Linked DNA regions of Homo sapiens: region 1 is linked to region 2. Evidence: fine-mapped expression QTL. Tissue or cell type: CD8 T cells. Region 2 holds a variant in brackets; the other region holds the start of a gene. All regions are shown on one strand. Distances are between the middles of the regions. Region 1 holds the start of RNF14 (ring finger protein 14). Region 2 overlaps GNPDA1 (glucosamine-6-phosphate deaminase 1).

The links.
Region 1: RNF14 starts here. The variant in region 2 is fine-mapped to the expression of RNF14 in CD8 T cells (CEDAR, PIP 0.90).

The regions. Positions count from the first base shown.
Region 1 is chr5:141,961,935-141,977,364 of GRCh38, reverse strand. It overlaps RNF14 (ring finger protein 14), which reads right to left and starts at 8,260. Exons shown (of 9, transcript NM_004290.5): 1 at 8,198-8,260; 2 at 6,488-6,661; 3 at 3,623-3,782; 4 at 2,410-2,561. The coding sequence starts at 3,776. It overlaps LOC124901095 (a long non-coding RNA gene), which reads left to right and starts at 7,585. Exons shown (of 3, transcript XR_007058977.1): 1 at 7,585-7,757; 2 at 14,151-14,274; 3 at 14,740-14,818. RefSeq lists an enhancer at 8,078-8,227 and a silencer at 8,338-8,477.
Region 2 is chr5:141,992,069-142,007,498 of GRCh38, reverse strand. GNPDA1 (glucosamine-6-phosphate deaminase 1) reads left to right here. Exons shown (of 7, transcript NM_005471.5): 4 at 1,173-1,355; 5 at 2,383-2,567; 6 at 4,237-4,411; 7 at 5,370-6,828. The coding sequence ends at 5,470. Among named protein-coding and RNA genes, the nearest start is that of GNPDA1, 13 kb to the left of the region's middle. The variant G/TTTG (reference allele first, on the strand shown) is at 11,384.

The DNA.
Region 1 (15,430 bases), 30 kb after region 2:
TTCTTACACTCTGTGTAGTGCCACTGACTAAACCCTGCATAGGTACTACCTTAAATACTTATTGATGAGTTAAGATTGAACAACTAATGATTTTTCACATTTGCATAAATATCCTTATAAATCAACCATGCTTTTGAGAAATCTGCTAACATCTGTAAAATGTGATAAATACTAAAAGGGAAGCTATGAGTGCTGTGTGAGCTACCAAGTCCTATGAAGAAGCCATTCTCCAACCTCTTTTCTACCCCAGTCCCTTCTCAAGAGAGGCAGCTGGGGCTGGGCGTGGTGGCTCATGCCTGTAATCCCAGAACTCTGGGAGGCCAAGGCGGGTGGATCACCTGAGGTCAGGGGTTGGTGATCAGCCTGGCCAACATGGTGAAACCCTGTCTCTACTAAAAAATACAAAAAATTAGCCAGGTGTGGTGGCGGGCGCCTGTATTCCCAGCTACTTGGGAGGCTGAGGCAGGACAACCACTTGAACCCACTAGGCAGAGGTTGTAGTGAGCTGAGATTGTGCCCCTGTGCTCCAGCCTGGGTGACAGAGCAAGACTCCATCTCAAAAAAAAAAAAAAAAAAAAAAAAAAAAAAGAGAGAGAAAGGCAGCTGGAATGCATGTAAATGGAAGGGGGACGGGAAAGAGACTGTGTAAGTATATTGGGGGAGGAATAAGGAATAAGGTTTTAGAAAACTAAAACCACTTCCCTCTGTCTACCCGCCCCAATTCAGGGAATGACAGCTCTATGTGTCAATTTCACCATTAACAGGTGAGAGTCATAATGCCAAGGAATCAGGGTACAGCAACAAACAAGAACTGAACCAAGAAGGAATATAAGAGACCAATTAAAATGTTAATTATATGCATAAACATTTATTTGATTAAGAATTCTACTGTAATTTTAGCTGTAACACATAAAACAACTCTCTTCCCCAGCACACACCTCCGCCCCCAAATCCAGCATTAAGTAGATGCTGGTTGGCTGGAATCTGAAACCACAACCACGCATCCAGTTAATCTGTCCCTGTTTTGTGCGTGTGTGTGCATGCACGTGCATGCACGCACATGCGTGGATGTAAAGTATGAAAAGCTCTCTGGTGAAATAGGACTATGAAGATCTAAATAATTAAGCCAACTATCAGTGGCCTAAATGCCAAACAGTCTTGATATTCCTGGACAAATCAACTGTCTTGCATCTGTTGCCTCTGGCACAGACATTAGAATGTAAAGTAATACTCCTTTTTATTCTACCTGTGTTATCCTTTTTAAGGTTTAATTTTGCTTTTAAACCATAAGCTCTAGTTTGTGAAAGTACTCTCACTTAAAAGATTAGATTGGTGGATGGGGAAATGAAAACTGTATGATCCAAAGAGAAAAACTAATGAGCTATTCCTTGAGGTCAGCAACTCTGACATCTTTTGTCTTTTTCTTTTTTTTTTTTTTTTGAGACAGGGTCTCTGTCTGTCACCCAGGCTGGAGTGCAGTGGCTCAGTCTTGGCTCACTGCAATCTCTGCCACCCAGGCTCAAGTGATCCTCCCACCTCAGCCTCCCAAGTATCTGGGATTACAGGGACGCACCACCACACTTGGCTAATTTTTGTATTTTTTGTAGAAATTGGGTTTCGCCATGTTGCACAGGCTGAGCTTTTGTCTTAATACACATTAGTCTATTGATCTTCATTATGACTTCTAGAAAAGCAGCTGCTGATTCATTATCTCTCCCAGAATGCTTTATATTATTTATATTTAGCTTCAAGCCATATTTATGTCTCAATCAAGAGTTGAGGTTGTTACTAGAAAAGTATATATAACCCAGAGGAAATGAGGTGCTTAACATAAGGCCTCAAGCCTTACTGAGATATCTACAGGAACTATACACATTTCTACTTGTATGCATTTATGTCTACGTGATACCAGTTGACTGTTATTTGTTATTAATACAGATTTTTACAAAGAAAATCAGTTATTGTATTCACTCAGAAAATTTGCTTATTATAACTACATTAGCTCAATTTTTAGTCCTAATTACAATGGAATCTTTCATTTAAGGAATGGATAAGAAACTAAGAGAAAAGTAGTATCAATGTCTAAGGAAAATGAGGAAGACCTCTTAGTCTCCATTATAATACAGATTAAACAGGAAAATAGCAAGACAAGAAAAGAAATAATATACTTGATTAAAAATTACTCCTACTACAATTCATGATTGTTTTAATTACTGCCATTCCTTTTTAAAACACCAAACATTTTCAATTTCTTAACATCAGGATTCACCAAGGCAAGGGAAAAAAATTACAAAACCAAAGCCATTTGTTTTTCATGCACTGAATTCAAGATCTTTAAGATAGTCTTCAATTAAAGGTGATTTTTAAGTTTCTAAAAATGGATAGGAAAAATTAAGTTTCAAGTCTAACCTGAGTTGGTGACAGCCATTTGCCACTAAGTGTGAATGAAGGTGGGGAAGAGGATGGATAATCTGGTGGCAGTTCAAAGTTCAGCACAAGTGGAGGCAGAAAGCAAATGGTGTATTCAAAGCCACTATTCTGGAGACACTCATTTGAATTGCCTGAACCAAAAACAAAGATTAGAAAGGATCAGTTGGTCAACACTTGAGTGTCCACTACTGTTGAGCAGCGCTCAAGAAAGACTTAATGCTTTAGTTGAGGGAATAAAAACCCTCCCCCAAAGCACTTTCTATTTCTTAATTTTAACTTCGTAGCCACCACCTTAAAAAAAAATCTTGTAAGCCCTTGAAAAATCTACAGCACCATGAAATGTATAATGAAAATACTACAACTTATTCTTGTATACACTTCTGAGTACAATTCCTAACACTAATGACCAAGGAACACACAATGTTTGTTTTGTTGTGGTTTGGTTTACAGTGGATGATTGAAGACACAATCTAGAGAAAGGATGTTCATTTCCATTGAACAGCATGACCTACTTAGACCAGCATGTCCCACTTAGACCAGCATGTCCCAACTACCCATGAATCAGTTGGGAAAATTTGTGCCAACACAATGATCTCAGGTTTGAGGATATAATATAGCACACAACACTCTCACAATCAAAGTTTCATTTAAATTACCACACTTACTTTCCTTACTCAATCCCTTTATAGTAGAAACATTTTGAGAAAGTGTGCATCAAAGTCTTCTGTAAATGTCTGTATCAAAAGCAGCAGTTTTGTTTTTTCTGAAGCAAAAGGTCACAGAGTAATAGCATGTGTCATATGTTTATAGTAGTTGAAATGATTCTGGAAACCAAATAGTATTAACCACCACCACTGTACTTGAAAATTTCTAAGCGTTTTCACATACATTCATTTTCTCTTTGATTACTGCTATGTAACAGCCAATGACTCATGGCTGATAAACTGCTAGTTAGCAGACCAGGATGTATGAAATATGCAGGATAATATCCCTCTTCAGTGATCAAAAAGGTAGAATCAAATTGAAAACTGCTTGCCCCTCATTGCAATTTTCATTTAAAACAGAAACATGCATTACCTCTGTAATACTACCACCTATCACTAATGCCTAAAACACAAAATGACAAATAGTTTAAGGTACACTAAGAAATAAAGAATAATAGAAAAATCTGTTTAAGAAATTATTAACTAACCGCTCACAAATATCTTGAAATTCTGTGGCAAATCCAAATAGATCCTGGTTTCTCCACCTTGGACAGACTCTGCTTTTCTAAATTCATCTCCATCGTAAATACTTGCCAGGGCCAGCAATTCATCCTCCTGAGCTTCTCGATCTTCTGACGACATAAGGACCTGAAAACATTAAAATCAGTTAAGAACAGAAAATGCACAGAGGCTGGCCGGGTGTGGTGGCTCACACCTGTAATCCCAACACTTTGGGAGGCCGAGGCGGGCGGATCACCTGAGGTCAGGAGTTCAAGACTAGCCTGGCCAACATGGTGAAACCCCATCTCTGCTAAAAATACAAAAATTAGCCAGGCGTGGTGGCAGGTGCCTGTAATCCCAGCTACTTGGGAGGCTGAGACAGGAGAATCGCTTGAACCGGGAGGTGGAGACTGCAGTGAGCCAACATCACGCCACTGCACTCCAGCCTGGGCGACAAGAGTGAAACTCCGTTTCAAAAAAAAAAAAAAGAAAAGAAAATGCACAGAGGTGGAAAAAGCTTAATGGCACAAAAAACAACTGCAAAGAATTAATCGATATTATCACTTTTCTCCTAAACCAAAAATGACAGCCATATCTGGCATTCCATTAGTTTTGCAATATTAACAGTCTTTTTCAAAAGGGATGGTTGTGGTACTTCTAATTCCTGATCTTATCAGTTAGATATTTTATGACTGAATTAGAGGAAAAAAAGCACAATTTGAAAATTTTCTTTGAAAAGGACAAATCACAAATTTACTTTGACTTGTCCACTGAACCTAGCAATGTGCCTGGTTCGCAAAAGTGGTCAAAGTATATTACACTCCTTTCTTAAGTTAATTTGCCAGGCGCGGTGGCTCGTGCCTGTAATCCCAACACTTTGGTAGGCCGAGGCGGGCAAATCACCTGCAGTCAGGAGTTCGAGACCAGCCTGGCCAACGTGGTGAAACCCCATCTCTACTAAAAATACAAAAATTAGCTGGGTGTGGTGGCTCACCCCTGTAATCCCAGCTACTCGGGAGGTTGAGGCAGGAGAACTGCTTGAACGTGGGAGGCAGAGGTTGCAGTGAGCTGAGATTGCACCATTGCACTCCAGCCTGGGCGACAGAGTCAGACTCTGTCTCAAAAAAACAAAAAAGTAAATTTTTTAAATCCACAGGAATCTTTAGGGCAAGTTTTCTTAGCTTCAGCTCTATTGACATTTTGAAGTAAATAATTGTTGTTGGAGAGCTGTGTTGTGCATTATAGAATCTTAACAGCATCCCCTGGCTTTTACCCACTAGATACCCAATAGTGGCCCGCTTCCACCCACAAGAGCTGTGACAACTGAAAATATCTAGCCAGGTGTGGTGGTGCTTGCCTGTGGTCCCAGCTACTTGGGGAGCTGACATGGGAGGATCACTTGAGCCTGGGAGGTCGAGGCTGCAGTGAGCCATGATAGCACCACTGCACTCCAGCCTGAGTGACAAAGTGGGACCCTGTCTCAAAAAAAAAAATATCTCCAAATAGCGCCAGGTCCTGGGGCAGGATGGGGGTTGGAGGCAAAATTGCTCCCAGGTGAGAAAACAGTGCTTGAGAATGTTACAGGCATAGATATTATGGAAGAAAATTAGATAACTGAGCAAGCAGCAAAATAATATTAAATTTTTGAAATAATAGATTTTGTCAAATCCAAGCAGTCACCAATTTAAAGATTCACCATTATGACTCAAGAATATTTAAAAGATAATAATTTTAAGAAAGATTTACCATTATTTTAGGTAATACTAAGAATTTAGCTACAAGGCCCAGGCACAGTGGCTCAAGTCTTTAATCCCAGCACTTTGGGAGACCAAGGCAGGCAGATCACTTGAGGCCAAGAGTTCAAGACTAGCCTGGCCAACACAGCAAAACCCCATCTCTACTAAAAATAAAAAAATTAGCCGGGCATTGTGGTACACGCATGTAATCCCAGCTACTCGGTGGCTGAGGCACGAGACTAGAGAATCACTAGAATCCAGGAGGCAGAGGTTGCAGTGAGCTGAGATTGCACCACTGCATTCCAGCCTGGGTGACAGAGACAGACTCTGTCTCCAAAAAAAAAAAAAAAAAAAAAAGGAAAGAAAGAAAGAAGAAAGAAAGGAAAGAAAGAAAGAAAGAAAGAAAGAAAGAAAGAAAGAAAGAAAGAAAAAGAAATTAGCTACAATTAAAGTATGAACTGGCTGGATATGGTGGCTCATGCCCGTAATCCCAGCACTTTGGGAGGCCAAGGCAGGAGGATCACTTGAGGCCAGCAGTTTGAGATCAGCCTTGGCAACATAGCAAGATCCTGTCTCTATAAAAAATTAGCCAGGTGTGGTGGTGTGTGCCTGTAGTCCCAGCTACTCAGGAGACTGTGGCAGGAGGATCGCTTGAGCCTTGGATGCTGAGGCTGCAGTGAGCCGTGTTTGCACCACTGCACTCCAGCCTGGGGGACAGAGCAAGACCTTGTCTCAAAAAATAAAGTATGAATCAATGTTTTTTAAAATAGCATCAACTGAAAGATACAGCAATTTCAGATAATTTAAATGTGAAAAAAATATGCAATGAGAATTTACAAAAATCATTTTAATAAAACAAAACTACCAGTCAATTAAAATATTGAACTACAATTGCATTTGCAAATATCCTCCCTCACAACTAAAATATTTTTAATTAAAATGTACATAAGTAAAAAGTTAGGATTTTTTACATTTTAAAAGGTCATACTATGAAATTAAAAATGATTTCATTTTCAAAAAACACTTTTTTTCTAGGAGATGTTAGTTCATGGCTCTGCTTAAGCTGCATCCCTATCTAAGACACAATTACATGTTCTACTTGAGGTCAGTTAGTACCTGTTAATAACAATCAGAAGAAAAGGATATTAACACCGCAGTCTGTATTTCAGCTCAGAGTGGAGTTCATGCAAATCCCATTTATTCTCTAACTGGTGGAGCTGAGACTGCTGAAGCTGGGTAAGAGGCCAAGATGTGGAACTCATACTACATATATTATGAAAATCCTGCCATCTGCAGAAAAGAAATACAAAAGATGGTGTTAGGACCCTCTCCAAATTAAAATTCTGAATTTCCATGATCACTGCTTAAGTCAAACATATCCTAACATATAGCCAATCCTAATCTACAAGTGCATGTTACTCTCCTAGGGCAGGCTAACTGAGCCATGTGGTTAAAGGAGTATTTGCATGTCCCCAGCAATGACTGAGGACTTTTTATCTGTCTGCCCTCAGCTATGGGAGGAGCTAAGGAGGAACACCAAGGTCATATGAAAGTACAGGACACCATGCCCCATAACAAACAATCTCTTCAGTTTGTTTTTTGTTTTGTTTTTTTCTCCTTTCCTCTTCTGCTTCTTGTATTCCTTCATTTGCCACTCCCCTCCAGTTTTTCCTCTCTTGTTCATGAATTAAGCCTGCCAGTGGCACTCAAGGTTAATTTTGGTAACAGAAAAATACTTAAACAAAACAAGAGTACACAAACACAAACTTTTAAGTTTTATTCTAAATGCTTTAGAGCTAGGCTTCTTCACTGGGGTGAGGGGAAAAGGGAGTGTGGTCTATAGATGGGCTACGGAGAATCCTATCAACACCCTAAAATTATATGCAAAAATACTATATACAAAACCATAATTAAAAACCAGATTCTCGGATGTGTAACTCCCAAATGAGATAAGAATGAGATTCAGAATCAATTTACATTAATTGAGCACCTACTATGTACTGTATTAGGTCCTTTCACATTGTCTTATTTTACTAGGTGGGAGTATATGGTGCTAATTGAATTAAGCTTTTTGTTTCTTCCTGTTAAAACATTTGCAAATGGGATGAGAGATTCATTCATGCAGTTTATGGTTTTAGGTTAGTGTTCTCCATCTGACTGCACATTAGAATCTTCTGAGGAGCTGTTTTTTAAAATCTCAATACCCAGGCCACACCCTAGAACAATTAATTCAGGCCTCAGTAGTTTTCCAAGTTCTCCAGGTGATTCCAATATGCAGCCAGGGCTAAGAACTTCTACTCCAAGCAGTTTCAACAGTTCCTCATGACCTACCCTACAAGATTTCAGCTTGTGAAGCTGTCACTTGGAATCCAGTACCTCAATTCAGGTTGCTAACCCCCATTTCCTTCTCACTCTATCCATTTGGTCTTCGGGTGTCCTAGTCTGGGTTCAGCTCGCCACTAGGCGTGCGGCGTCGTTTGGGCGACTGCCCCAAAACAGGGGCAGGCCCAACGCTAGCTATCCGCCCCAACGCTGGGATCAGAGGGCGCAATGCGGATGTGTGAGCTGCTGGCCAGCCTGGGGCGTCCCGAAGGAGCAGGGCCCACACCTTCCCCTTCCTCCTCAGCGTCCCGAAGGGAGTCCCGGCCAGCCGAGCTGCGGACGCCCGGTCCCGGATTTGAGGGACTGAGGCCCAGTGTACAGTCCCAGCCCGGTCCCCTTCTCTGCCTCGCGCGCCCAGAGAGCTATCCCCACCGTACCTTCCGGCCGCCCGGCAGTGCCGAACCCCAAAGTTCCGCCCTCCGCCCTTGCCTGGGGCCCACTCACCGCCGCCAGCCGACCAGGCCTAGAGACGCCCTGCTCAACCGGCGCGCCGCCTCTTCCGTTCTCGGGAGCTGTCAGCTGAGCCAGGCGGATCCCGCTGGCGCGACCGCCGGCATAGGGAGGACTCTGCGCAGCCGCCGTGGTCGCCCCTGCCTCTCGGGCGCCTCCCGCAGGCCCAAGGCGGCGCTGCCGGCGCGACCACCGTCACCCCCACTTACTGCGAGCCCTGTGCTCACAGGAGGCTCTTTTCAGTAGTTCTGATGGGGCCCGAGAATTCGAATTTTTACCAATCTCTAGAGGGGATCATGAGGCAGTGGTCTACCTAGGGCAGAGACTCTCACAACAATCCCAGACCTGCTTCTCCAAGTGGACTAAGCAAGCCTACTTCCTCCCGTTTACCTTCTCAGAAATGCTGCCGGTCTTTCTGGCACTCCACTGTGGAAGCACGCATTCATCGCTCATGTTATAACTGTAACACCGACCGCATTTATCGAGTAGTTAGGATGCTTCAAGCAGTGTGATAAATGCTCTACGTAAATTTTCTATCTTCACTGTAATCTTATGATTTAGCTACCATTTGTTATTCTCACTTTACAAATAAGGAAATTGAGACTTAGGTGCAAGAACTTACCAAGGGTCACATGATTATCGTCAGGCTAAGCAGGAATTAAAATTATACACTTCCTTCCTCACACCATATGCAAAAATTAACTAAATATGGATCAACGACCTAAATGTAAGAACTAAAACTATAAAACCCTTAGAAGGCCGGGTGCGGTGGCTCACGCCTGTAATCCTAGCACTTTGGGAAGCCGAGGCGGGTGGATCACGAGGTCAGGAGATCGAGACCAGCCTGACCAACATGGTGAAACCCCGTCTCTACTAAAAATACAAAAAATAAGCCGGGCATGGTGGCGGGCACCTGTAGTCCCAGCTACTAGGGAGGCTGAGGCAGGAGAATCATTTGAACCCAGGAGACAGAGGTTACAGTGAGTCACTGCACTCCAGCCTAGGTAACAGCGAGACTCCGTCTCAAAAAAAAAAAAAAAAAAGTCAAACACAAAAAGCCATATATTGTTTTTAATTTATATGAAATGTCCAGAATAGGCAAATCCATAGAGACAAAAAGTAGTTTAGTGGTTGCCAGAAACTAAGGCAGGAGGGAATGGGAAGTGACTGCTAATAGATACCGCTAATAGATATGGTGTTTCTTGGGTGATGAAAATATTGTGGAATTAGAGAGCAGTGATAGTTGTATAACTTTGTGAGTGTACTAGAAACCACTGGATTGTATACTTTTGAAGAGTTAATTTTATTGCATGTGAATTATGTCTTAATTAAAAAATTTTTTTAGGTACAAAGCACCGTTCTCAGCGCTTAAGTGGAATACAGAAATGTTGGCTCCTTCTCCTGGGACCCATCAAACTAATGTGCTCCTCACAATCTAATAAGCTCCTGTGTCCGCTTTTTCATATATTTCTTCCTCCAAAAGAGTAACTTGCAGAGCTAAGACTCTAACCCAAGCCTACAGGATTCTAAAGCTTTTACCACCATTGCCTCCCGGGCAGGATTAGATTCATGGGCCAGCAACCCGTGCAGTCACATAGGGCCCTGCACTTAGAAGGGCCCCAGATTTAGAAGTGGCCTGCTCTTAAGAATGATACAATGGACTTTGGGGACTTAGGGGGAAGGATGAGAGGGGGACGAAGGATAAAAGACTACAAATAGGGTGCAGTGTATACTACTCGAGTGATGAGTGCACCAAAATCTCACAAATCACCATTAAAGAACTTACTCATGTAATCAAATACCACCTGTACCCCAATAACTTATGGAAAAATTAAAATAAAAAAGAAGTGCCCTGCTCTTGATTTGATGCTGTGCTCTCACCCTCTTGAAGTTCTTAATAATTTCTGAATGAGAGGCTGCATTTTTATTTTGCCCTGGGCTTTGTAAATTATGTAGTTGGTCTTATACCCAGGAGAGAGAAAAAAACCAAGTGAGTAAATCAGGGCACCCAAGGGATTACCTGGCTGCCACAGAAAGAACCTTGAAATAGAAATAATCACTTCTAATTTTCTGTACTATAAATCTTGATTGTCACAAAACAGAAACCAAAATACCCTTCTAATAGATACCAAAACCAGAAACATATCTCGGAAAAATGCAAAGGACGGAAGAAGAATCTCCAAAGCCATTCATTAATATAATTATTCATGTTTAGCCAAAGGAATTAGACCAAGAGCAAAACACACAGCAACCCTACCTCAGAGTGCTCAGAGAGGGGAGACCAGAGACCTCTTCGTGAGGAAAAAAGTGAGGAAGCCCATGCACCAACCAGCTTGGGAAATCCTCACAAAGTCAGAGCAGAAGGTGAATTGTGACATCATGTCAGAGGTCACAGGATAGAGAGAATAGAAAGAGAATTTCAAAGCAGTGTTAATAATTTACTGAATGTTTAAAGTGAACTAAAGATTTAGAGTCAATTTTGAGGACAAGATTGGGTAAAGACAGCCTTCTAATAAGTTTTGTTTTTGACTCTAGGAAAATAACAGACTTTTGTGTCTTTGGTCTCATGTGCCTGGTTAGTCTTTTAAACTGCAGTCTCCCCGTGTGCCTAGCCCTCCACTGTGCTAAATATTTCACGTACATTCTCTCATTTAAATGCCCAGGACCCTATGACTTAGGTAATTTTATGTGCCCACTTGACAGAAGAGAAAACTGAGGCACTAAGATTTGTTTTTTTAATAAGGCCTTTTATATTTACACAATTACTATTTATGACATTTTTATTTATTTTTAATATAAAAAGATGTAATAAAAGACAGCAATGTCATAAAGTTGAAGTCAGGTGTATTATACTTTGGGGTTTTGTTTTGTTTTTGAGACCGAGTCTCACTCTGTCACCCAGGCTAGAGTGCAGTGGCACAATCTCAGCTCACGGCAACCTCTGCCTCCCGGTAGAGGGTTCAAGCGATTCTCGTGCCTCAGCCTCCTGAGTAGCTGGGATTCCAGGTGCACACCACCACATCTGGCTAATTTTTGTATTTTTAGTAGGGATGGGGTTTCACCATGTTGCCCAGGCTGGTCTTGAACTCCTGGGCTCAAGTGATCCACCCGCTTTGGCTTCCCAAAGTGCCGCGACTACAGATGTGAGCCACGGCGCCTGGGCCACTTTTTTTTTTTTTTTTTAACTTTTAAGTTCATGGGTACATGTGCAGGTTTGTTATGTAGGTAAACTCGTGTCACGGGGGTTTGTTGTACAGATTATTTCGTCACCCAGTGACGAAATATTAAGTCTAGTACTTTTTATTCTTCCTGATCCTCTCCCTCCTCTCATCCTCTCATCCTCTACCCTGTAGTAGGTAGGCCCCAGTGTGTGTTGTTCCCCACTTTGTGACCATGTGTTCTCATCATTTAGCTTCCACTTACAAGTGAGAATATGTGGTATTTGGTTTTCTGTTCCTGTGCTAGTTTGCTAAAGATGATGGAGGCACTAAGGTTTGGCCAGTATCACACAGTGGTGGAGCCAGGGTTAGAGCCGATTCCTCATCAGTCTGACTCTCTCCAGGAGCCTGTCAGAGAATAAGGGTTTTTTGTAACAAATTCACAGAGAGTAAAATAGTTCTGGCCTTAAGAACTAAACGGGAAGGCCCTGGGGAAGTTAGGATTCGAGTTTATGACTTAAGGATAGGTGAGAATGAGAACACAGACAGAGAAAGAGACCCAACTCCCACCCCCTGTCCCCAGGGACACCGGATGATGACGGAGCCTAGGGAGAGGAGAGGTTACAGTGTACCACCTAGACCAGAGGTCGGGACCCAGGCCACGGAGTGGAGAGTAGAAGTGAGTCACAAACTATGGCTTGTCACTATAGGGGTTAGCAGACCTGACGGTGCCTGCATTTGTTCCCATCCATCACTGGCATCTGGTAGCTGTCCCGAAACTTTGCTGAACTCATCCCACCATCCCAGGGGGGACTGCCTCCTTTTCCATGGCCACCACTCGCAAGCACTCCTGCAACAAGCCCTTGAACACAGAGGGGCAGCAGTGTGGAGAGGAAAACCCTGCCCAACTTTTGGATAAAACTGAACCTTAATGAGCCCTACCCCAGTACAGAAGTGTCCCTGACTTCTTGCTGGTCTCTTGTCATTGTGTATTTGCTCATCATGTAGATCTTAAAAGTCTATTATCATGTGGGCCTCTGAAACATTGTTTTTTTTTAAAAAAAATTAGAGGTTTCAGGCCAGGCGTGGTGGCTCATGCCTGTTATCCCAGCCCTTTGGGAGGCCGAGGCAGGTGGACCACCTGAGATCAGGAGTTTGAGACCAGCCTGGCCAATGTGGTGAAACCCTGCTTCTACTAAAAATACAAAAAAAAAAAAAAAAAATTAGCCGGGCTTGGTGGCGGGCACCTGTAATCCCAGCTACTCGGGAGGCCGAGACAGGAGAATCACTTGAACCCAAGAGGCAGAGGTTGCGGTGAGCCCAGATCGCACCATTGCACTCCAGCCTGGGCAACAGAATGAGACTCTGTCTCAAAAAATAAAACAAAATTTAAAAAAATAGAGGCTTCATCCTAAAAAATTGGAAGTGCCTACACTAGAAGCACAATTATAAATAACGCTTAAAGTGCTACTTATATCCCAGGCCCCACTCTAAGTGCTGTATGTTAACTAAGCTAAACCCAACATCAACCCTATAACATAGCACCATCATCATCATCATCATTCCTATTTTAAAGCTAAGGAAACTGATCATAGATAATTGACTTGCCATCGTCACACAGATGGTAAATTACAGAGCCAATCCCTGAACCCAGGCAATTGGTGCCCTGGGCCCACATCATTAACCCCATTGCTATGCTTAGACCAAGTCAATACTTGGCTCAAGGAAAGTGGTCAGCTGGGTCTGTAAGGAGAAATAGCCAGATTACCTGCGTGACCAGCTTCCCTGGCCAGTGCAACCTAAACAATAACTCAGGTCAGGTCAGCCCAGGGTTATATAAAGACAGACTGCTACAAGGGCTTGAGGTGGCTGACAGTATAAAATGTTTTCTGTGCTTTTGATGCAAGCTAAAATTTGATTTACAATAATAGGCACAGAATGATCATGTTTATACTCGCAACCTGGCATTTTATTATTATTCCCCTGAATAACAGTGAAAAGAGTTTTGTAACCCCAAGGTAACATGGCTCTGTAAGGAGGAAAGAGGGGTGAGATTTAGCAGCAGCTGCCATCATAAATCAGTGTGTGGCTGTTTCTCTCAGAGCTCCAGGCTCAACTCCTGGCTGTCATAAACTTATAAAGGGAAGCCCCATGAGAATTTATGTAACGATGGGAAGACTCATTTTCCTTCCTGCAAGAGCCTTTCTGAAGCAAGGAGAGAATTAGGCCGATTAGATTCTATATGAAGAAAAAAACCAAGCCAATGGTTTAGAGGAAGGGAAAATGTGGGTCAACTTGAGCTACTTCCCTTGCCAAAAAAATGACCTTGTAAATAGAGAGGAACATGCTAAATTCCACCAAATAAATGAGTGACTGGATGACTGAATGATTTAATAAATGAGTGTAATCTAGGCTTCCTCCAGGGTGGTTCTTTCGTGTAAAACAGTTCGATCTTGGAGTCACCCAGAAATGCTGAACACATAACAAGGCCAATCAACAGAGTTCGCTTCTGAATATTCATGCACAGATGATGCTCCCAGTCAATATGTTTGATTTTTTTTTCTGTTTACTAATAGATTTTCAAATTCACTGTGCAAACCAAAATTCTTAAAAAAAAAAAAAAAGGAACTTGTGTTGAAAGCATACATTATTTCTGGGCAGAGTTGTCAGATTAAAATATTTATACTAAAATTATTCATTGTTTATCTGAAATTCTAATTTAACTGGGCACTCTGTATTTTTATTTACTAAATCTGGCAACCCCTTTCTGGACCAATAACCCTACGTAGAGGAAAGGACAGAAGATAGCTTCTAGGGGACATGCCTGCACCTGGGAGTTAGAAGGAAGGAAAACCAAAGAAGGAGCCAGAGAGGCAGATAGAGGAGTCTGCAGAAATATGGAGAGAGAACCAGGTGAGTATGGAACTCTATAATGAATAGTGACACACATGTCAGGGAGAGGTGGGGACCATGAGGATGCTGGGTTAAGAAAGGCCTGATCGCTATAGAGTTTGGCCTTTGCAATGGGGGATGGTGATTCTGAGAATTTCTAATAGGTGGTTCTCGATGAAGTTGGGGTGGAGATAAGGATGCATGTCGGAATCACCCAGAATATATCAAAATTGAAATCTGTACACCAGAAGTAGTGCCCTTCCTCTCGAAGGTTGGGGAGAAAGACATGTGTGTGTAACTCTTATCAACCCAGAACTCAAGTGGTCCAGTTTTGGGTCCATGTTATGGTTACTAACGCACAAAATAAATTTGGAAAAGAACATACAAATCTTTTCTTGTATTTTTCTTGAAAATCATGAAGGAGGTCTATAATTTGCAATAACGAATTCAAAAGTCCTTTTCATCTTCATTCTACCTCCTTCACAGCCTCTGCTGTTGTCTGCTGTATTGCTCTCCAGAATTTTCTCAGATTGCAGAAATCTCCCTCCTCCCGTCTATTTATTTTTATCACGTAAATCAACTTAGCCTCTCTTTCCAGCAAAAAGGTCCAATCAAATTCCCCAACCCTGTCCCAAATGAAGGGTGCGGAACTGAGCTGGCAATTACAGACTATTCTTTGGCAGTATTCTGGGAAAGGGAAAAGTATGAATTTTCTTGCCCTGTCCCTGGTATTTTGTAAAGCTTTCCAAGTGACTTCGATATCTGGACCCTTTTGAGAACTGCCGCTGTTAACCAAGACATAAAGCTTTTTCATTTCTTGAAAGGTCCTATTTCTTGGCAAATTTCTCCCTGCAAAGTGCATTCTTTTTTCTGCACTGACCCCAGAAACAGGTGCCATTGTGTGGGAGACAGCACCTGTCATCTGTCTCAACAAAGTCCACAAAGTGCCCTGCTAGGAGCAGATAACCCAGAACATCTACCTGAGTCTCCCAGTCAAGATTCCTGGTCTGACTAGGAATCTAACTTCAACAAGATCTTCCTGAAAAAAGACGCTGAGCTTGGACGGTCCAACCACCTCCCTACCTGGGATAAGCCGGAGGATGCTTCTTGGCTTCCCCAAAGCTGTCTTGGTGGTGATGCTGTGGCAACCACAGGGGAGATTCACGAGGAGAAAGCC
Region 2 (15,430 bases):
ATTCCATTTCTTTCTGGAACAAATGATTGCAAGTGGGATCCTGGCTCGGGTGTTTCCCCTAGGATCTGTGTCTGTGCTTTCTCTTCTGTGTGTGGCCTCCAGCTCCCCTTTCTGCCAGGTACACTTGAAGGGGACCTGAGATTGGTATCCTTCCTGCTGCTGAAAGACTATACCTTGGTCTTCTATCACCTCTCCCTCACCCAGTCCTTTTGTAATAGCTTCATTTTAAACATCCTTTTTTTAAAAAAAAAATTGTGGTAAAATACATGTAACATGACATTTACCATCTTAACCACCTTTCTGTGTATAGTTCAGTAGTGTTAAGTGCATTCACATTGTTGTGCAACCAATTTCCAGAACTCTTTTCATCTTGTAAGACTCAGGCTCTATACCCGTGAAACAACAACTTCTCATTTCCCACTTCACCAGCCACGGAAACCACCATTTTACTGTCTGTTTCTATGAATTTGACTACTCTAGAATCAAACTAGAGTATATAACTGGAATCATAAAGTATTTGTCTTTTTGACTGGCTTCTTACACCTAGCATAAAGTCCACAAGGTTCATCCATTGTTGTAGTGTGTGTCAAAATTTCCTTCCTTTTTAAGGCTGATTTTACATATTCTTAATGCTTAACATTAAACATTATTTTTTTTTCCTGGCCAAAAAAAAAAAAGTTGATCTGGGGAAGCCCTAAGATAGTTCTCTCTAACCACCTGGTGTTCAAGCTGGGATTTATTCAGGCTGAGTGGGGTAGAACTGGGAGTGGATGGTGGGTTGAGAGGCACAGGGTGAGGGGTGTGCTTGCTTGCTTTCTAAGATGAGTTCAGCCCTACCCCAGGTGGCCAGAGTGTCCCCAGCCTCTAACCTATGGTCATTGCCTTATGAAAAGCAGATCAGATCAGAATGTGGGGATTTCCCAGGCCCTTGGTGTGCAGTTACTCTGGCCAAGCCCTGTGGCCACAGATGGTGGTACTGGGTGGGTGGACACTTATGGATACTGGCTCAGCCTGTGCCGAGTGGCTAGGGGTCAGAGGGCTGGTGCCTAAGGCTCCCAGATGGGCAGACCCCTGGGAGTGTCTCTGTAGGTCAGCATGGTGTCCTGGCATCCTTCTTAGGAGAGGGGCTTTGGCTTGGCCTAGGCATAACCGAGTGTCTCACGGCCCCACAGGCCTTCCTCGAGACCACCCGGAGAGTTACCACTCCTTCATGTGGAACAACTTCTTCAAGCACATTGACATCCACCCAGAAAACACCCACATTCTGGATGGGAATGCAGTCGACCTACAGGCAGAATGTGATGCCTTTGAAGAGAAGATCAAGGCTGCAGGTGGGATCGAGCTATTTGTTGGAGGTGAGCTTGACACTCTGCAGCACACATGTCCAGGGCCAGACCCGTGGGAAGGAGGACAAGACACAATGCCTGTCTGCAGACAGCTTCTTCTGGGTGTGCTAGTGACCGTAGAGACAGAGGCGGGAGAAATGGGCCCTGCCTGGCTCTGTTACTCAGGAACTATGTTATCTTGGAGATCTCTTTCTGCAGTTTGATGCCTTGTCTGTAAACTGAGAGGTTTGGGTTTGGACTCTGAGATTCTGTCTACTCCCCAGTCTTAAGGTTTTATGGATCAGTCCTGGAACTTATCTAAACATTTAACATCATGGACTCATGTAGTTCCGGAAGGCTCCACACAGCCCCTGTAGATAGCCAGTTGAACCCCAGAGAAGTTAGGTGACTCACTCAAGGTTCACAGGTGGGAGCAAGTGTGTGCTTCTTGGATTTGTGCTCGGGTCCTCTGGGCTGCCCTTCTGTGTATCCATCTATCGCCACCTCTGGAGTTACCCATGAGGGGTAACATTGAACTGCCTTTTATTGCTCTAGAGATCACTCTTCTATACTTCAAGGTGGGGAGGAGGGGGGCAGGACCTCTCATCCTCTGAGATTTTAGAACCTTGGCAGCCCCTGTCCAGGTTCTCTGGGTGTTTTGTTCACTGCACCTCTATCCCAGCAGCAGGACCCTCTAACTACAGGCAGAAGAGACAGAGAAGGTCCACTTTTCTGACAATCTGGGGAGGCAGAAGCTGTTTGGAGTGTTTCCTCCTCAGCTTTTTGAGGGTGATAGCAAGTTAACAATGTCTGTGTGTGCCTCAGATAGACATGATGGGGAGGGTCTCCTCTGAGACAGTATGGCAAAGAGAAAGAAATGGTAGGGAGGGGGACAGATCACATGTTTAAGGTGTACCTGCCCAGGGCTGCAAATGAGAAAGGTGACACAGCTTTCAATGATTTTTCTTCAGACCCTAGTTAGGGAAGGAGAGATTGTCCATTCTTGAAATCTTGGATCCCTGGGACTGACAGGGCTGCACGGGCTCTCTCCCTATAGGCATCGGCCCTGATGGACACATTGCCTTCAACGAGCCAGGCTCCAGTCTGGTGTCCAGGACCCGTGTGAAGACGCTGGCCATGGATACCATCCTGGCCAATGCTAGGTTCTTCGATGGAGAACTCACCAAGGTGCCCACCATGGCCTTGACGGTGGGGGTGGGCACTGTCATGGATGCTAGAGAGGTAAGGGCATAAGGGCCCCACCAGCTTGCGCTGGTGGACTTGTCTTTCTCTTGTTAATCTTAACTATACTGGTACCACCTACATTCTTATTAAAGATGAAGGCATGGTAAATAAGGCTAAAATCCCTGCTGACCCTGTTACTCACTGTTCCTCTTGCGTCTTTGGAAGACATCATTATTCCCAGTGTGAGGTGAATCCCTTGAGCACGTTTTTGGTGCCTTTGGCTGACTGCCTGAGACAGCAGGCTCTCTGGCCTCAGGCCCCTTTCATGCTTTTCACAGGCAGAGAGGAGGCCAGCATCGCTAATGTTGGAATATTTGTACCTGACCAGGTATGGAGAGAGGGGTTCCCTTGTTCCTTGTAGTTGGTAGAGGTCACTGTTGGGACACCAAGGATGCTTGTGCTTCTAGCCCCGTGCTCAGAGATTAATAAATGTGGTGAAGTATGATTAAAATATAAGTGTTTTAAACTGAATTTAGCTTTTCCCCTAAAAAATTGGCTATCATTTGAATGTGAATTTTTTGTGGTTCCAATTTCCTTATTTTCATTAGAACTTTAGAAGCATTTTCTCTTCCTTTCTGACGTGTATAGACATGTTAGATTTACATTTCTTTGCCCAAGCCAATAAACAAGCATCTAAATCAGTGAAAACTTCCCTGTTTAAAGTGAACTTTTGTGAAATGAGTGATGGCACCCAGATTTCTGTTGGGTAATCTTCAATCAGTACGTGGGGTGGGGGTGTTTACTCGCTGTTTTTAGCTCTGCAGCTTGGAAACAGGTTTAGGGCCGTCTTTATCATGAGGGCATCTTGATCTGGGAAAGGACCTGGGGCTGGAAATCAGGAAATTATCTTTTCTAAAGAGTTCTGGGTTGCTGAGGGGTCCGGAAGAAATAGTCACATTCCCTCTCTGCTTCTGCATTCTAATCTTTTAAGAAAGGAACAGTAAATCCTGTTCACAACTCTGTGGCACATGTGAATTAAAATGAAAGGAAATCTACAGAACTGAGTTTTTTTCTCTTTTCCTGCCCTTGAATAGAGCTGAGTTCTTTAAGATCACTTACATTCTCGATATTTTAACTGTTAAGTGGAGACTGTGCCTTTGTTTTATTATATATTAACAAAAACCATCACCCCAAGTCACATTAGTTCATAGGTTTAATGCTGTGAACTGAAAGTGACCAGATAATGGGGCAACCTTTCTGGGATTCAGCCTTAGAGGCCCCACAGATAACTCCCACCATTGCTTGCAAAGTGCCCTTGCTGGTGGTGCAGGTTGGGAGCCCTCTTTCACAAACTGTGCTTGTGTAGAGTCACCCAGCTGATGGGATAGCAGGCCTGGGCATGGCATGTCTGTTTACAGGGCACCTTCATAGTCATCATCAAAGATACCTGGAGGCACTGTCACGTGGTAGTCAAGAACATGAACTTTGGGGTCATAAATGACCCTGGGCAAGTTATTTAACCCCCTGGGGCTCTGTTTTCTTATAAGATGGAGATAATGATGCTGCCTGCCTCGGGTTATTTGTGTGATAAAGCACAGGGAGCACTGAGCAAAAGTATGTTGCATGGTAACCACTTACAATGTGATATGAAAAACAATCATCCTTACAACTGTTTAGGGTGTCTGGAATGCTCCCCTCCATCACAGACTTGTTTTCTGATCCCCAGGTGATGATCCTTATCACAGGTGCTCACAAGGCATTTGCTCTGTACAAGGCCATCGAGGAGGGAGTGAACCACATGTGGACCGTGTCTGCCTTCCAGCAGCATCCCCGCACCGTGTTTGTGTGTGACGAGGATGCCACCTTGGAGCTGAAAGTGAAGACTGTCAAGTATTTCAAAGGTGAGGGAGGTGTGGGTCCAGGAGGAGGTGGTCAAGCTTAGGGTGTGCTAGGAGTAAGGAGTAGATCCAGCTTTCATCCTCTGGTCATTTTAATTGACAACTGTAATCTTAAGAAATATCAAACCCAACTGCATCACACTACACAGTCATTTCTCTTCTGCCTGTGACTGCAAAGATCCATTTCTGGAGATCTGTTTGCTCTGAGGAGGAGGAAAGAAAACGCAATGTGGTCCAAGGACTATGTGGTGACCTCACAGTGCCATTAAGCCTCAGGTTTTCTCTTTTCAAATCTTAAACAAGCGATTCCTTTCTTTTATTTACTTTCTTTCTTTTTGAGACAGGGTCTCACTCTGTCGCTCAGGCTGGAGTGCAGTGGTGTGATCTCAGCTCACTGCAACCTCCACCTCCCGGGCTTAAGTGATTCTCCTTGCCTCAGTCTCCCAAGTAGCTGGGATTACAGGTGCCCGCCACTATACCCAGTTAATTTTTGTATTTTTAGTAGAGGCGGGGTTTTGCCATGTTGCCTAGGCTGGTCTCAAACTCCTGACCTCAGGTGATCCACCCACCTCGGCCTCCCAAAGTGCTAGGATCATAGGTGTGAGCCACGATGCCCAGCCCTTCTTTTACTTTAAAAGGATGCACACTGCTTTAGGCAAACATGTGAAAATCCTCTTTTACTCAAGTAGGTCAATTAGGAATTTGTCCTTTGCTGAAAAGACTAACCTTTAAATAGCCAACTCCCATAGTGATTGAATTTATAAAAGTTCCATGAATGTAGTACTCACTGTGAATAACTCTTTTTATACTCTTAGGGTGTTTATCATTTGGGGATCATAGAGAAAAGAGAGAAGTGTCAGCTCTAAGACAAAATTTGAGAGCTCCTGGATGTTATGATTGATAATCAAGGAACTCTTGCCACTGCCTGAATTAACTACTTTTTGTTTTTAATTTTTTGTAGGTTTAATGCTTGTTCATAACAAGTTGGTGGACCCCTTGTACAGTATCAAAGAGAAAGAAACTGAGAAAAGCCAATCTTCGAAGAAACCATACAGCGATTAGCCTGTGCTGGGACCTAGTGTCAAGTACCCATAGGGAAAGGCAGGTCTTTCTGGAAATTGTCTTTAGAAGAAAGAATTGTATTTCTTTAATCTAGTATGGTTACTCCAGATAAGTGGGTGAACTTATTGTTCTTGGCCATGAGGCTGGGAGCCTAGTCACGGAGTTTAGCTATAGGGAGAATGTTTGTAACTTAATCAGAAAAAAAATATCTGCAAAATGTACTCCATCATTTTGATGTCTGCCAAACCCAGGTTGGGAGTTTTAAACTTTTTGTTCTGCTTCAGCCATGGTTCACACATATGACACACTCCCGTCAGGAATTTCTCTCCTTACACGCACTGATTTTCAAGTGGGAGGGAATTAGGGGCTTATGTATATTGGATACCACCTCTTTGAAGAGTCTTGAGAGTCCTTCTTGCACAGGCCTGCCCCTTGGTTGAGAACCATTGTTCCAAGTGAAGGCACAAACTCTCAATATCTAAAATAAGTGCAAGGAAGCAGTCTCTTTGGTCAGTAACAAGTGCAATGGAAAGAAAACGATCCCTTCCTTCTTCCACTTTCACAGCTTTTCTCTGAACTAGGAGAACCTGGGGGTGGATTTGGGTGGGTGGGGCCAAAGAGGAGGCTTCTATTGATAAATCCAGAGCCTCAAGGGGCCCAGCCACGTCAAACTTCTCTCCCTCAGGGACTCTCCAGCACCAAAAGGCAGAAGGTGGAAGCCGTTTTTCCCCCAGAGCCCTGTGTTTTTGTGAAAGCCTCACTGTGGCTCCTCTGTTTTACATACTCATTAGTAAGTGGGAGGTCCACTGGGGCAACAGACACTGCCACAATTTCAGTGTTGTGTTCAGCCAAGGGGACGGTCTGGGCAGGCAGCTTAAGTGTGAGTTTAGTCACAACTCCTGAGTGTCCCGCTCTCCTGCTTACCTAGGAGGTGAGTGCCAGGAAAATACACCAAATGCTTCTAGTATTGTTTCCCCACTTAAAATAGTCCTGCTTAAATTCACATGGTGTGGTCTGATGTTCTGAGAGCATCAGGAAATACAACCCTTTTGCCCATTTACCCTTCTCCCCGGATCCCAAGGTGGTCTGTTGCTCTGGCTTCCTTTCATTGTCTTAGGCCTTCATGGAGTGGATGCTGCCTCCTCCTGGCTGTTTTTGTGCCTGTTTGAAGCTACTGCTGCCTCCATTTCTGGGAAAGACCTTTGAGAGCCTAGCCCAGGCCTAAGGGCTATGTTTGGTACCAGTGTTTTGTCTTTAGCTTTTCTATGTGATTGTGCCGTCATTCTGTTTTAAGCTCATGGATCAATGGATTTGTTTACAATGTGATATTTTCTATTAAATCCAGTATTTTCAAATAACATGTCATTTGTGGATTTGAGCCCCCAATTTTAGAAGACTCTCTGGGCTATTTATATATTTTAGAAAGAGCTGGTAAGCAAAGCCTCACATTCAGTCCTCACAAGAGCCTGCAGGAAGGCCACAAGCATAGCAACCATCATCAGAGTGAAAAATAAGATTTTATGAAAATGGAGCACTTACAGGAAAAAGGGTAGGAATGAACAGATGAGCAATAAATTGTCATGTTGGGGCTGTACCTGAGATCCAAACGAGGATACAGCTGTTATAAAGATTAAGGCAGATTTGTGATGAGGGATATTATTGCAAGGTATGCAAAAATACATATAGGTTTTTTTTTTTTTAAAGTTAATATAATGGAATATCTTAGGGCAATATAGCCAATTAAGGAGGTAGATATAGAAGTTAAAAGAAGGGTTTAATTTTTTTAACTATTTTGAGGCTGGGTGCAGTGGCTCATGCCTATAATCCCAGTGCTTTGGGAGGCCAAAGCAGGAGAATCACCTGAGATCAGCAGTTCAAAACCAGCCTGGGCAACATAACAAGACCCTGTCTCTACGAAATTTTTAAAAATTAGCCAAGCATGGTGGTGTATGCCTGTAGTCCCAGCCACTCAGAAGGCTGAGACAAGAGGATTGCTTGAGCCCAGGAGTTCAAGACTGCTGTGAACTATAATCGCATCACTGTACCCCAACTCTGGACAACAGAACAAGACCCCATCTCAAAAAAATATATTTTTTTGATATAAATCCAATGATTTTTATGTTTATAGAATACTGCACTTCCTTACCACAATCCTTTTTTTTTTTTTTTTTTAAAGAGAGAAAGTCTCACCCTGTCTTCCAGGCTGGAGTGCAGTGGCGCGATCTCAGCTCACTGCAACCTCTGCTTCCTGGGTTCAAGTGATTCTCCTGCCTCAGACTGCCCAGTAGCTGGGATTACAGGTGTGCACCACCACACCCACCTAATTTTTGTATTTTTAGTAGAGACAGGGTTTCACCACATTGGCCAGGCTGGTCTCGAATTCCTGGCCTTAAGTGATCTGCCTGCCTTGGCCTCCTAAAGTGCTGGGATTACAGGCATGAGCCACCGCGCCCAGCATCACAATCCATTTCTATCATTCCCAAAAGCTCCCTACTCCTAACCCCAGCCCCAGGCAACTACTGGTCTGCTTTGCGTCTACAGATTTACCTTTTCTGGTCATTTAATATAAATGGAATCATGTGACATGACATCTTTTGTGTCTGGCTTTTTTCACTAAGCATAACATTTTTCAGGTTCATACAACACGTAGCAGCAGTCCATTCCTTTTTATTGCTGTATAGTATTCCGTTTTGTGGACATATATTTTGTTTATCCAGTCAAGAAGGGTTTAAATTTTAAGTATGTTATAGTAACTACATTAAAATGAGACAAAAAAGGACTTAGTGATGACAGCTAAACTGGAGATACCTGTATGAACTTGAGACCTTAGAAAGATCTGATGTCCTTCCTGAGTCTGTGTTTTCCTGGTGGCTCAACAGCAGTGTACTGCTACAACCAGTGCTTATGCGATCAAGTGGGATGTACACCCCTGGGTCATCTTGGGCTTCTAATACCAGGGCTCCTTGTACAGGAGCTAATATGTTTGGGGGTAGGGATCAGAGTAGGCCTGGAATATCTTGTTACTGGAAATAAGGGTGCTTTCAAAAATGTCTGGGGCTGGCCAGGAGCAGTAGCTCACGCCTGTAATCCTAGCACTTTGGGAGGCTGAGGCGGGCGGATCACCTGAGGTCAGGAGTTCAAGACCAGCCTGGCCAACATGGTGAAACCCCATCCCTACTAAAAATACAAAAAATTAGCCAGGTGCAGTGGCGTGCACCTGTAATCCTAGCTACTGGGGAGGCTGAGGCAGGAGAATCGCTTGAACCCAGGAGGCAGAGGTTGCAGTGTGCCAAGATCATGCCACTACACTCCAGCCTGGGCTACAGAGCAAGACGTCGTCTCCAAAAAAAAAGTCTGGGGCTTGTCCCAGGAAGTCTGGGGATGAAAAAAAACAAAACAAAAATGTCTGAGGCAGTTCTGAGAGGACGAAACAGCCAGTTAAATGGGTTCCCACTGAACAGGTTTTCACAATTTGATCAAAAAGGAAATACTAAATACAGCTGACTGGAACAAGTTGAATTTGTAAAACAGCAAGTTTGATAAGAAAAGGAAAATGTAATATTAAGTGCACACAGAGCTGTATTTCAGGAAGAGTAGACAGAATGTGTTTACTTACATTTAGTAAAAAGTGGCAGTGTTGACATCAATGGGTGCCACCTTCCTTCTATTAGTCTGTTTATAAAGTAGAGGTGAACACAAGAGCCTGGCTATTACCCCTATGGCCTACTCTTCTACTCTTTCCGTCCTTCAGGCCTTGCCTCAAATGTCATTTATCAGATTAACTCTTCCCTGATCCTCCAATATAAAGCTGCAATCCCCAAGTTCCTATCCTTGCCGTGCGCTATTTTCTCAGAACCCTTTACCACTGGACGTGTATTTTGTTTCCCACTAAATGTAAACTCCATGAAGGTAGATGTTAAATACTGCTCTATTCTGCCCCTATAGCAGTGCCTTGATATCTAGAAGGCACTGGTACTTGTTGAACCATAAGCCTGATAGTTGTCCCCATGAGTAGTGATCGTACATAACAATCAGGGGAAATCATGGCATATTACATAATGGATTAGCCAACTGGCCTACTGAGGAGATCTAACTTGGAAAATTTGATGCTTCTTTCCTGGGAACCAAAATCCTTACTGTGATGAGATGCTAATGAAACACGTCCATTTCCGGTAAGATACAGTGTGACAGGATTTAGAGTTATGCAATAATGGGCAGGTAAAACAGAACATAGTACTTTGGACCTCAGGGGAGCCATTACCACCAGCTGGCAGTCATACTACATTAATAATCAGACTAGTCCATTTAGTATCCTCAAAGACTAAATCATAAGGTCCCAAACCTCTAACCCCTCTATCCCAGCTTTCCTTTCAGCTAATGACCTTGAAAACAGAAGCAATCAGAAAAGAATGTCCACGAGTTCCCATCATCACATACCCAGACGTCAGCCCTGCTCTCACACTTGCTGTCTTCCTGTTACCTGCTCCTTGGCCGAGCCCTCTGCTTGCACACCAGATCCCATCCTCTCTTGCCTCCTTGAGGACGTTGCTCTGGCAACACTCCCAACTCTCACCTACAGCATCAAATTGTCCTCTCCTGGACCACTCCTATGGCATTCAAGACAAGATTTAAAAACAAAACTGTACCTCATTTGCCCCCTAAGTACATCCTCATTTTTCTGATCTCCTTTAGAGTAAAGTTTCTAGTTACCCATACTCTGACTTTAATCTCTCACTCTTCTATTCTCTCTTCTCCTTCTGGTATGGTAGTCGCCCCTTCATCCACAGGGCATATGTTCTAAGACCCCCAGTGAATGCCTGAAACCGTGGATAGTACTGAACCTGATAGTTTTTTTTGATACACATATACCTATGATAAAGCTTAATCTATAAACTAGGCGCAGTAAGAAATTTACAAAAATAGAATAATTATAATACACTGTAATAAGTTATGTGAGCATTGTCTCTCTCCCTCTCAAAATCTTATTGTACTGCACTTACCTATTTTTGGACTACAGTTGACCATAGAAAGTGAAACTGTGGATAAGGGGGAACTACCGTATTCCCATTACGCGTAGCTACACTTTGCCTTTTTTTTGGAAACAAGTTCTCTGTTGCCCAGGCTGGAGTGCAGTGGCATGATCTCAGCTCACTGCAATCTCCACCTCCCGGGCTCAAGCGATCCTCCCACCTTAGCCTCCTGAGTAGCTGGGATTACAGGTGTGCACCACCACGCTTGGCTAATTTTTGTATTTTTTTTTTTTTTTTTTTTTTTTTTGTAGACACTGGGTTTTGTCATGTTGCCCAGGCTGGACTCAAACTCCTGGCCTCAAGCAATCGCCTACCTCAGCCTCCCAAAGTGCTGGGATTACAAGTGTAAGACACTACATCCAACCTACACTTTTAAAAATTATCCCACAGTTCTTGGATATTCTGCTGTTTTTAAAAATTTTCCATTCCTTTTTGAAATCTTTCAATTTCAATTTGGGAAGTTTCTATTGACATATCTTCAAGTTCACTGATTCTTTCTGGCTGTGTTCAGTCTTATGAGCCCATCAAAGTCATTCATGTCTGTTTCAGTGTTTTATTTCTAGCTTTTTTTTTTTTTTTTTTGAGACAGAGTTTCGCTCTTGTTGCCCAGGCTGGAGTGCAATGACACGATCTTGTCTCACTGCAACCTCCGCCTCCCGGATTCAAGCTATTCTCCTGCCTCAGCCTCTCGAGTAGCTGGGATTACAGGCATGCACCACCACGCCAGGCTAATTTTGTATTTTTAGTAGAGATGGGGTTTCTCCATGTTGGTCAGGCTGGTCTTGAACTCCCGACCTCAGGTGATCCTCCCGCCTCAGCTTCCTAAAGTGTTGGGATTACAGGCGTGAGCCACTGCACCTGGTCTTTTTTTTTTTTTTTTTTT[G/TTTG]CATTTCTTTTTGATTCTAAGTTTCCATCTGTTGCTTATACTACGTGACTATTCTTGCATGTTGTTCATTTTTTCTATTAGAAATCTGGCACATTAATCAGTTATTTTAAATTCCCAGTCTGATAACTCTCAAATTTCTGACATATCTGAGTCTGGCTCTGATGCTCGCTTTGTCTCTTCTTTTTTCCCTTTTAGCATGCTTTGTACTTTTTTACTGAAGCCAGACATGATATATTAGGTAACAAGAACTTACGTAAACAGACCTTTAATGTGAGTTGTATGTTTATCTGGCTAACAGGCTGCATCTGATGTTCGCTGTAGGTGCTAGAGGCTCCAATTTTCCTCAATATCCTTGTCTCCCCTGTTGTCTTTGGGTTTCCCTAGAAATTCCTTCTTAAAATAGAGTCCATGTCTTGCAGCTCTCAGTTGTAATCCACTGTTATCCTGGAGCCCTACTGATGGTATCGTATTGGTGAGAAGATGCACTGCATATTCTTATGATTAAATCTGTCTTTTTTTTTTTTTTTTTTTTTTTTTTTTAGTGGAGACTTGTTTTTTCCTCCTCCTATGTGAGACAGGAAGGCTAGAAGGGGGTTGAGCCATCCAACTGCCCTTCTCCTAAGCTAGAGAAGGCTTCTGCAAGTAGTTTTCCCTGAGAAAACTGTTCTCTGCCATGGAGAACAGAAGATCTGGGGCTGATTTCTTCCTGGATGTATTTCAAAAGGATTACTTTCCCCCTTCCCGTGTCCAAAGCACAAGGGAATTTTCCTGCCATCTTTACAGGAGAACCTAGTGGGTCTCCTCGAGGTAAAACCCACCAAAGTGTGGGGTTCCCTTAGACAAGCTCCCGGTTTTGAACCCTCAAGCTAGTCCACACTTAGCCCACAGCAATATGTTTAAATCTCAATTACTGTCTCCAACAGCTTCTGCCTTAGGTGAGCCGATCTCCATTTTCCTGCCTGTTTTTGCGGTGAAGGTTTGCCCTGTGACCTCAATTCTCTGACAGATGTAAGAAAAGCTGTTGATTATCGGTTTGCTTAGCCTTTTTCTTATTATGAGGACACCCCATTCTTTCTCAAACATACTCTAGATTTGCAACTGCCCTCCACTGAAACAGCACTTGTCAAAGTCCCCAAGGACCTCAATACTGACTGCTTCAATTGTTACAGCTCACAGTACTTGACCTTTTTGCAGCGTATGACACAGTTGATTACTCCTTCCCTCAAACTTGACTTGGCTTCCAAGACACCACACACAGCTGGTTTTCCTACCTCACTGGCCACTGTCTGTCTTTGCTGGTTTTTCCTCATCTCCTTGACTTCTTAGCATCTGGAGTGACCCACGACTCAGTCCTTGGACCTTTCTCTACATAAAACTCACTCCCTTTCTAATCTCATCTAGTCTCATGACTTTAAATGCCATTTACATGTTGACTCCCATAATTCTATCTCTACCCTGAGTTGCTCCCTTGAACTCCGGACTAGAATATCCAACTGCCTGTTTATCATTTCCCCTGGGATAACTACCAGGCATCTCAAACTTACCTGTCCACAACCAAATTCCTGATCTTCAGCCACAGACCTGTGCTACCTACAGGTTTCTCATCTCAACTGCTCAGACAAAAATACCTAGAAATCAACCCTGATGCCTTAATTTCTCATATAGTCAGCCTGTCAACAAATCCTATTAATTTTACCTTCAAGGTAAGTACAGAATCTAACCAGTTCTCAAAATTCTAACTTCTGGCACACTGGTACAAGCCACCTGCACTTCTCACCTGAGCTACTGCAAATGGCCTCCTAACTGGTCTGTTTCCACCTTTGCTCACCAATCCCCTAAAGCACACGCCTGACCCTATCACTCCTCTGCTCAATGGCCCCCTCTCAGAGTGGCAGCCAAAGTTCACACAAGGCTCTATACAGTCTACAGGACCACATGCTTACATCCCGTCTCTCACTCTTCCTGGGTCTGCCTCAGCCCTCACTGGCTACCACACTGTTCCTGGAGCCCTCTTACATGCTCATAGCCCAAGGGCTTTGCCCTTGCTGTCTCTGCCTGGAATTCTCTCCTCCCAGGTGTCCAGAAGGTTCAATCCCACACTGCTGAGACTTTGTTCAAGTGCTATCTTGATGGAGTCTTCTCTACTCTTTAAGATTCCAACATTGCCCTGCCTCCCCTAACTCCCTATTTCTTCTCCCCAACTTCTATGGTTTTTTTTTTTTCTTTTTTTTTCTTTGAGACAAAGGTCTTGCTTTGTCATTCAGGCTGGAATGCAGTGGTGTGATCAAGGCTCACTGCAGCCTTGACCGCCTGAGCTCAAGAAATCCTCCTGCCTCAGCCTCTTGAATGTCAGCTGGGACAACAGGCACATACCACTGCACCCAGCAAATTTTTAGTGTTTTTTTGTTTTTTAAGAGAGACGGAGTCTTACTATGTTGCCCCGACTGGTCTCAAACTCCTGGCTTCAAGTGATCCACTCACCTCAGCCTCTCAAAGCACTGGGATTACAGGAGGGAGCCACTGCGCACGACCCATGGTACTTATCTTCTGATGAACCAGATAATTTACTTAGTGTCTCTTTCCTTCCGCCAGAATTTAAGTTCCACATGGGCAGGGAGATTATGTCTGTTTTATTTACTGCTACATTCTCACCACCTTGAAAAAGAGTAAGGCCCATTGCTGGGTATTCCATCAGTATTTGTTAAATAAGTGAGTTATTCTAGGAAATACTATAGGTTGCAAAAAGTAGAATGGTACTGAGGGTAAGACAATCGCTTTTAAAATTTACATGTATTTATGTTGTATTAGTGTGAGTTTAGCTGCTTTTCCTTTTTTGGTTTGTTTTTATAATGAAGGGAAAAAAGGAGATCCAAGCAAGGAAAAGAAGTGACTGTGTTAACTTTGTACTTAGCAACTTCAGCATCAAATCTCCCTAAGTTTCCAATGTACACAATCTTCTCCAAAGCATCCTCTGGCTCAGAGAAATGTGGGAGTCCTTGGAGTGGTAAATCTTCAGACAACCTGAGAAACTGTACAGTCTAAACGATGGGTGATGAAAGTTGATTATTACCATAAACATTGGCTAAGAATACCCCTAAAGCTCCCATAACCAGATTTCTGACCACACTCAGTCTGGCCTGATTTTTTTAGTTAAGCTAAGGTTTGGGGAGCAGGCTGGCTACTCTTACCAGCATCAGAGGGCACCATGGGGTTACAATTCCTTGGTCCTACTTAGGGGCTTTATATACAACTTAATTTCCCTACTTTGGTGGTTGAAGGTTAAGTGCCACTATCAGGAGTGACACTCTACTATGTAACAATTGCATAAGATGTCAACTGTGGTTCACATACACTTTTGAGTATTTAAAAATTTCTGATAATACTGCTGTTCCTGCCTTGATAGTACTGTTAGATACCATTCTGTCTACTAAAGTATAAAACAGACTATAATGAAATATAATGAGGAAAATTTAAATACCAGAAATTAAATCTACTTCTGTAACAAAACAACATACTCTATACCTGTCTTAACTAGTGACGATATTTTTAGAACATGGGAACTGCTGCCACCTGCTGGTGATGCTTATGGCAAAGTTAATACTAGGTAGGAGGGAGATCCAAACTCCAGTCAAAATTCTGAAATTCCCTTTCAAAGCAGACAGCCACGTGAACAACTTTATTATTATCTCCTCTAATTAACTCTCATTGCTCTTGACAGAAAAAATAAATACAAAGTATATGAAGAGATTACTAATGTAAATTAGAACTGTCTACTACTAAAAAAATGACTTTGGGCAAATGACTTTGGGCTGGGTGCGGTGGCTCACACCTGTAATCCTAGCACTTTGGGAGGCTGAGATGGGTGGATCACTTGAAGTCAGGAGTTCGAAACCAGGCTGGCCAACATGGTGAAACCCCGTCTCTACTAAAAATTAAAAAAAATAAAAAATAAAAAATTAGCTGGGTGTGGTCGTGGGCACCTGTAATCCCAGCTACTTGGGAGGCTGAGGCAGGAGAATCACTTGAACCCGGGAGGCGAAGGTTGCA